Homo sapiens: one gene and its partner. The protein of the gene in region 1 interacts with the protein of each later gene in a pairwise test. Each region holds a gene or a part of one and is shown on either strand. Other genes may lie near its edges.

The links. The genes of interacting proteins can lie anywhere in the genome.
Region 2: the proteins of GBP7 (region 1) and PBX3 interact in a two-hybrid assay, tested with the Homo sapiens proteins (one large-scale study listed by BioGRID).

The regions. Positions count from the first base shown.
Region 1 is NC_000001.11:89,173,204-89,177,232, forward strand, and holds the start of GBP7 (guanylate-binding protein 7), read right to left. Parts: upstream 2,801-4,029; 5' UTR 2,718-2,800; intron 1-2,717.
Region 2 is NC_000009.12:125,925,373-125,928,872, forward strand, and holds part of PBX3 (pre-B-cell leukemia transcription factor 3), read left to right. Parts: intron 1-3,500. UniProt on the Homo sapiens protein: Transcriptional activator that binds the sequence 5'-ATCAATCAA-3'.

The sequences.
Region 1 (4,029 bases):
AATGGTACTTTGACACCAATATATCACTCTAGGTGTGTTCATTATTTCTAGACCCACTCAGGGGCAAAGTTAAGAAATATATGTATGTATACTAGGACACATCTATATTTATTTTTATCTGTACATTTCTATAATAAAGCTTGAGATTCTGTTGATATTTCCAGTTCCAATCCAACACATCTGAGCTTATTCAAGCTTTTGACTTTCCTTTTTAAACTATTTTCTCCAAGTAAGCTAGACTTTGGTCTTCTAACACATAATACATTTGTTTCCTTGCTCAGTCCTAGTATATTCATATAGTAGTTTCAAAATTGATAATAAGTCTGTGGAAAAATAAATTTACTTCCTATAGAAAATTATTAGTGTACAGTTCTTTTGGTCTTTAGCCTTATATACACACTCAAAACATTGCATTCCAAAGTTGCTTAGGTTAGCTTTTTCCTTCTCCACCTTCTTCAGTATGGTTAAATTATTCATTTGTAAAACAGTTAGTTACATTTGTTACTGTTTGTGTTTCAGTTTGGCCTCCTTCACATCTTGGTATCTTGGTTGATTTTAAGTATGATTTATTTTTTGAGTTTGTGAAACATCATGGTTCTGAAATGCAGAGCTTTTCAAAAAGTTACAGTCAGAGAAGTGTCACTTTTCCTTCATCTTACCACTCCACTCACATTGCAGTGGTCTTCTATTCTTTCTACCACATTCCCACCCATCCTCCATAGATACCCAATCTTGTTAGTTTCTGGTTTACGCTTCTTGGATTTTCTTTTCTCAAATGAGAATGTACATATTTTCTTTTTCACATTTTCTAACACGAAGATCACATCATATAGAAATTTGGAAATCCCTCCACATCTGTTCATAGAAAGCTTTTAAAATCCTTTTAACATGTATCTACTCCTTTATGTGGATTATACCCCAGTTTATTCAATCACTCTTCAATGTATGGGCATTTAGATTGTTTCAAATATTTTGCAATTACAAACAATGCTGCAATGAATAACTCTGCTAACGTTATGCATGTGTATTTTTATATTGTTACAGGAGTAATTTCAGGATAGAGTCCTACCAACGGGATTGCTTGGTCAAAAGATGAGAGTATATAATTTTGTAGATATTGCCAAGTTCCTCTCCAGAAAGTTGTACAAGGTTGCATTCCCACCAGCTCATCTTGTATGTCATTTTCTAGAAAATGGAATTTTTCCTAGGTGCCCCGCTTGCTCTTCTGAATTAATTACAAAATTTCCTTTGGAAGCTTTTCACGTTCACATTTAGATCTTTGGACTGAGCAAAGCTGAGCTCGCTGAGCTCATGTATATAGTAGTAGTAATCTTCACCTGGGAAACATTGTGTTATACATATCTCTATACTTTGAAACATAGATACCATTCTAACCCATTCTTGGTCCTGATTTCTTGCAAGCCCCTCTGTGGGCAGGGTCTGGTCAGACTGTGGGACTCAGGTTACCCAATGGCTTCCTCCTCTCACTGTGCATCAGCATTCACACGTTATTCATGCAAGCCTGATAGCTCGCACCTGACACTTACTCTGTTGATTTTTGACTTGATTATGTTAACAGATTTTGAATTCTCTGCATTTGAAGATTGATTCTTTATTACCTCCATGTATATCAGTCTGCATATTGTTTTTAATTATTTCATGTAATGAAGTCACAGCATGAAACATTCTTTGAAAAACCATGGCTTGTTTTTTGTCTGATCTCTGCTGTATAGAGAGTAGCATATGCACAATTGTAATCATGCTATCTTTATCCAGGGCTTGATAAATTAAATATTTTGATAATTTTGTAAAGTTAAAAGGAGTGAAAAGCCTTCTTGTAGTGATGCTTTAATTTTGTGTTTTTAAGTTGAATGTCTCAATCCTTGTAACTTATGTGATCATGATACAAAATATATAATCTCTTTAAGATACAAGCAAATATAGATGATAGATACTGCAGTTTTCTTTTTTATCCTATAATAAAGAGTGGTTTGTTTCCACTATAGAGTTGGTTACTTCTGACTTGTTCCTCTGGAGGTTTATATTAAATTATCTGGCTTCCCATCACTTCAGCAGAAGATGGAAAAAAAGCCGTTTATTTTTCTGTGATCATGACCCATTTCCTCTTATAGCAATGGCCTACAGGATCTGCTGGCAAGCAAGAAGGGCAAACCAGAAACTAAAAAGATTGGGTATCTATGGAAGATGAGTGAAAACAGAGTATGCGTCTGTCCAATTCTGTAGCATATACTATGCTACCATAACATAGGAATCAATCAGTCACCGGCTCAGAAAGGTGGTGGCACAAAGATGTTATAAGGTCCTGGATTATAATAATGTGTTGCCTCTTTTTGCAGATCCCAAGTTGCCTACCTTCATTTACCTAGAGCTATAAATGTTGGGCCCAATAAAGAAAGTGACAGAGCCTATTAGGCAGATATTTAAAGATAACAGTAATTTAAGATGGTGTCAGAAAAGAAATAACAATCTTAGAACACTGGCTTCTCTGAATATCTGTTCCACCTCTGCTGAAGCCTAATCTGACACAGCAGGAATTAGAGCACACTAAGGTACACACAGCCACCTAAGAGGCCAGGATTTCATCTGGACTTGTATCCTGTAGCTGGCTCAGCTGCAGCCTATCTTGGGGATGGTCAACTTAGAGAAAACTAATGGATCCTTATAAATCATGAAATCCTTATAAGTCATAGTCTTACCCAGAGTAGAGATCCTCTGGACTTGGTAAGAAGGCAGCTTCAATGAGAAAGTTATGAGTCTTTATTCTCTTCTCTTTAGTTCTGAATTTGGCTGCACTGATTTCTCCCACTTTTTTTCTTGCTGGAACTTTGGACTTTTACCTTACCTCTCCAATGTCATGGGGCTTTCCAGACTTTCTAGAGACCTGTATTTATACATGTAAAAAACAATGCAACCTCTGCAAATAAATAGAGTAATATGACAGTCCATGATTTAGCAACAATAAAAGAAATTGCTGACAGCTGTGCTAGTGAGAGGATTTGACATAATTTCTCAAACAGAATCTTCCAATTTTATTATTGGAAGAGATCTTAGAGACAGCTTGCGATTATTAAAAAAACTTCAATGAATCGTTTAAAATAATGACATTCATCTCATGTTTGTGGGCCACATTGAGAAGTACAGGAATAAGAAAGCTTAATATAATATTATTTAGGTTCAATTGGCTTGAATATTAGACTCTTAAAATGGAACTCATTATTTGTGTTTAATAATGAGGACTCTAAATGCCCTGAAGGAATGTCCACGTCTTATACATGTTTGAATTATTAGCACCTAACTCAGGTCTTGGCACTTAACATTTAATAAATAATAATGAAGATAGTACCCGTTTTGTTTACATAGATTATCCCATTGTATTCTTATCACAAATACTTTTACCACAATGTTAAAAGAGGGATTTAATAATTTATTACAATTACAGAGCTACTAAATAAGATTTGGGCCCAAGAAGTCTTGCTGTCAGTCACTTCATTAAAATACCTCTGTGTTTGCTGAGTGTACAATAACAATGTTTTCTCCTTATCAGTTCCATTCTAGGCCATATTCTTTACACATACCATTTTAAATATCAAAATACCTCAAGATAAAGGTTGTTTATTATCCCCATTGTCCAAGGGGGAAAAATAATCAGAAAACGGGTAATTAATATGTCTAACTAAAGCCATTGAGCTACACACCAAGGTAGCAAGTAATTGAGCGAGATTCAAACTTGAAAATCCATTTGGTTAAAACCACATTGATTCTCTACTGCACATTGTCTCTAAAAGAGAGGAAGGTGGGAAGCGGGGAAGAGAGAGAGAGAAATGGAGAGCAGAGAGTAAGACTTCTCTGTGTGTGTGTGAATATTGATGAGATTTAAAGTGAAAGTAAGGCAGGGTTATTTCAAAACAGAACTATTGCTAGGAAATCACCTGCTTCTAAGTAATAAAATCTATTGTTTATATCATGCAAACAAAAAATAGCCCCAGGCAAAATTGAATCTTTGTGAAT
Region 2 (3,500 bases), on another chromosome or scaffold:
AAAATACACACTAGATTTCAAAGAGTACAAAAAAGGAATGAAATACCTCATTAACAGTTTTTTTGTCTTTCTTTGTTTCTTTCTTTCTTAATTTTCTTTCTTTTCTTTCTCTCACTCTGTCACCCAGGCTGGATGCAGTGGCACAATCTCAGCTCACTGCAGCCTCTGCCTCCTGGGCTCAAGTGATCCTCCTACCTCAGCCTCCCAAGTAGCTGGGACCACAGGCGTGCCACCATGTCCAGCTAATTTTTTATATTTTTGGTAGAGACGGAGTTTCACCATGTTGCCCAGGCCAGGATATTTTTTATATATTGGGTTAAGTGAAATATATTGTTGATTAATTTCACCTAATTCTTTGTATTTTATTTTTTAATATGGCTACTGAGAATTTAAAAATTTAATATGTGGCTCACAATGTATTTCTATTGGACAGGATTACTCTAGAGAGAAATTTTGTGGCCAAATTTATTTGGGAAAAAGTTGGATATGCTATTTCTCCTTGAAGATTTATTACAAATATTAGGATAGGAATACTGAAGAGTCTTACCCACAAAAAGTTTTTAAGATTTTGGTTAACCCAGCAATTCCCAAACATATCATATTGTTGGACTATTAGTTAACATTCTATGGAACTAGCTGTAGAACTATAGAATTTGTTAATCCCAGTTTTGGAATAGTTCTACTTCAATTATCTTTGTTTTACTGATGAGAAAACTGAAGGGTAGAGTTGGTCACATTACATAACTTGGAAATTATATAAACATCTCCTTAGGGAAAGTTCAAGAAAAAGATATATACGTATATTTATTGGTAGGGTGACCACTTGTTTTTAATTTGGCATAAAATCATTTAAATTGATAATATAGGCCAGGTATGGTGGCTCACGCCTGTAATCCCAGCACTTTGGGAGGCCAAGGTGGGCGGATCACTTGAGGTCAGGAGTTCGAGACCAGCCTGGCCAACATGGTAAAACCTTGTCTCTACTAAAAATACAAAAATTAGCTGGGCGCAGTGGCATATGCCTGTAATCCCAGCTACTTGGAAGGCTGAGGCACGGGAATCACTCAAACTCAGAAGGCGGAGGTTGCAGTGAACCAAGATCATGCCACTGCACTCCAGACTGGGCAGCAGAATGAAACTGTCTCAAAATAATAGGCCAGGTGCTATTTATTACAGGCTCATGCCTATAATCCCAGCACTTTGGGAGGCTGAGGCAGGTAGATCACTTGAGGTCAGGAGTTCGAGACCAGCCTGACCAACATGGTGAAACCCCATCTCTACTAAAAATACAAAAAAAATTACCCGGGCATGGTGGCACACGCCTGTAATCCCAGCTACTTGGGAGGCTGAGGCAGGAGAATCGCTTGAACTTGGGAGGCGGAGATTGCAGTGAGCCAAGATCGTGCCATTGCACCACAGCCTGGGTAACAAGAGCTAAACTCCGTCTCAAAAAAAATAGTAATAAGATAAAATAAATTGATAATATAGTGGGGAAGATCTTAAATTTATTTTTTTAAATCTTGGTTTCTGCCTTCAACTTCTGGTTTTAGTCTACAACATTGCTTAATGTTTTACTGTGTCATATCCTGGGACAATGATTATTAACCTTTTAAAATTATAGACTGAGATTCTGAAAAGAAAACAAAAGCTTCACAGATTCTCTCATCAGAATTATTAATATGCACACAACTTGTGTAGGATTTCAGGAGGTCATTGACCTTCTAAACCTATCCATTGACTGCAGATTAAGAATTCTTCTCTTATGATTCAGGGATAATGAATTTATGGCTATTAACCAACATAACTCTCACTCTTGAATTGTAGTATTAAAAAGCCCACCAATCTGTAGATGTTTATTAGGTATGTATATTGCATAATTCTACACTGAAGAATCCCGTAAGTATAATATAGTGTCACCACTCACAAGGAATTTAATATTTCCTATGGCTTAAAACATATTTTTGAAAAAACTTTACATGATAAGACTCATTTTACCTTACCTTAGAAATATTTATGGAAAGCTCTATAAAATTTTAGAGTAAGTGAAATACACAGGGTTCAGGAAAGGTTAGTCCTCTAATGAGCAGTTAGAAAAACCATCATGTGCTATATGTGAGCAATGTTTGGGATATCTCTAGGGAAGTGGACATTATTATAACTTCCAAACATGTCTTGCATTGATCAGTGATTTTTCTGTCTTCTCACTCCATCAGGGACACCCGTGCAGTAAGATGCAGAATTTCCCATCCTGCATTTTTAAGAAAAATGCCAGAAGAGACTCTTTTTCTTCAGGAGTATAAACTGATGCTTTATTTACCAGGCAGTACTGGATTTCAGTGTAGGCCCAGTTATACAGATTTATAAATCAAAGAGAATATAGATGAAGTTGGATGCAGTGGCACACACCTGTAATCCTAGCAGCTCAGGAGGCTGAGGTGGGAGGATCTCTTTAGGCCAAGAGTTTGAGACAAGTCTGGGCAACATAGCAAGACCCTGACTCTAAAAAAGATTTAAAAATTAGCTGGGGGCCAGGCGCAGTGGCTCATGCCTGTAATCCTAGCACTTCGGGAGGCTGAGGCAGGTGGATTGTCTGAACTCAGGAGTTTGAGATCAGCCTGGGCAACATGGTGAAACCCCATCTCTACTAAAATACAAAAGAAATTAGCCGGGCGTGGCGGTGTGTACCTGTAGTCCCAGCTACTCGGGAGGCTGAGGCAGGAGAATTGCTTAAACTCAGGAGGCGGAGGCTGCAGTGAGCCGAGATCACACCACTGCACTCCAACACTCCATCCTGGGCGACAGAGCAAGACTCTGTCTCTACAAAAAAAAATAATAATAATAAAAAATACATAAAAAATTAGCTGGGTATGGTGGCACATGCCTGTCGTCACAGCTACTTGGGAAGCTGAGATGGGAGGATTGCTTGAGCCCAGGGGCTTGAGGCTGCAATGAACTATGATCATACCACTGCACTCTAGCCTGGGTGACACAGTGAGACTCTGAATATTAGGGGAAACAAATGTGTGTGTGTGTGTGTGTGTGTGTGTGTGTTTTTGTGTATGTACTGAAAGAGACAATGTCTGAGGATTTTTTTTTTTTTTTTGAGACAGAATCTTGGAATCTCGCTTTGTTGCCCAGGCTGGAGTGCAGTGGCGCGATCTCGGCTCACTGCAAGCTCCATCGCCTGGGTTCACGCCATTCTCCTGCCTCAGCCTCCCGAGTAGCTGGGACTACAGGCACCCGCCACCACGGTGGGCTAATTTTTTGTATTTTTAGTAGAGATGGGGTTTCACTGTGTTAGCCAGGATGGTCTCGATCTCCTGCCCTCGTGATCCACCCGCCTCAGCCTCCCAATGTGCTGGGATTACAGGCGTGAGCCACCGCGCCCGGCCTGAGGATTGTTAACTAAAAAGTTTGAGACCCAGATCTGATCCTTATTTTCTGTTGGACATCCCTTGAAGAGTTGAGCTGCTTTACAGAGATGGCTTATATCCACTAAA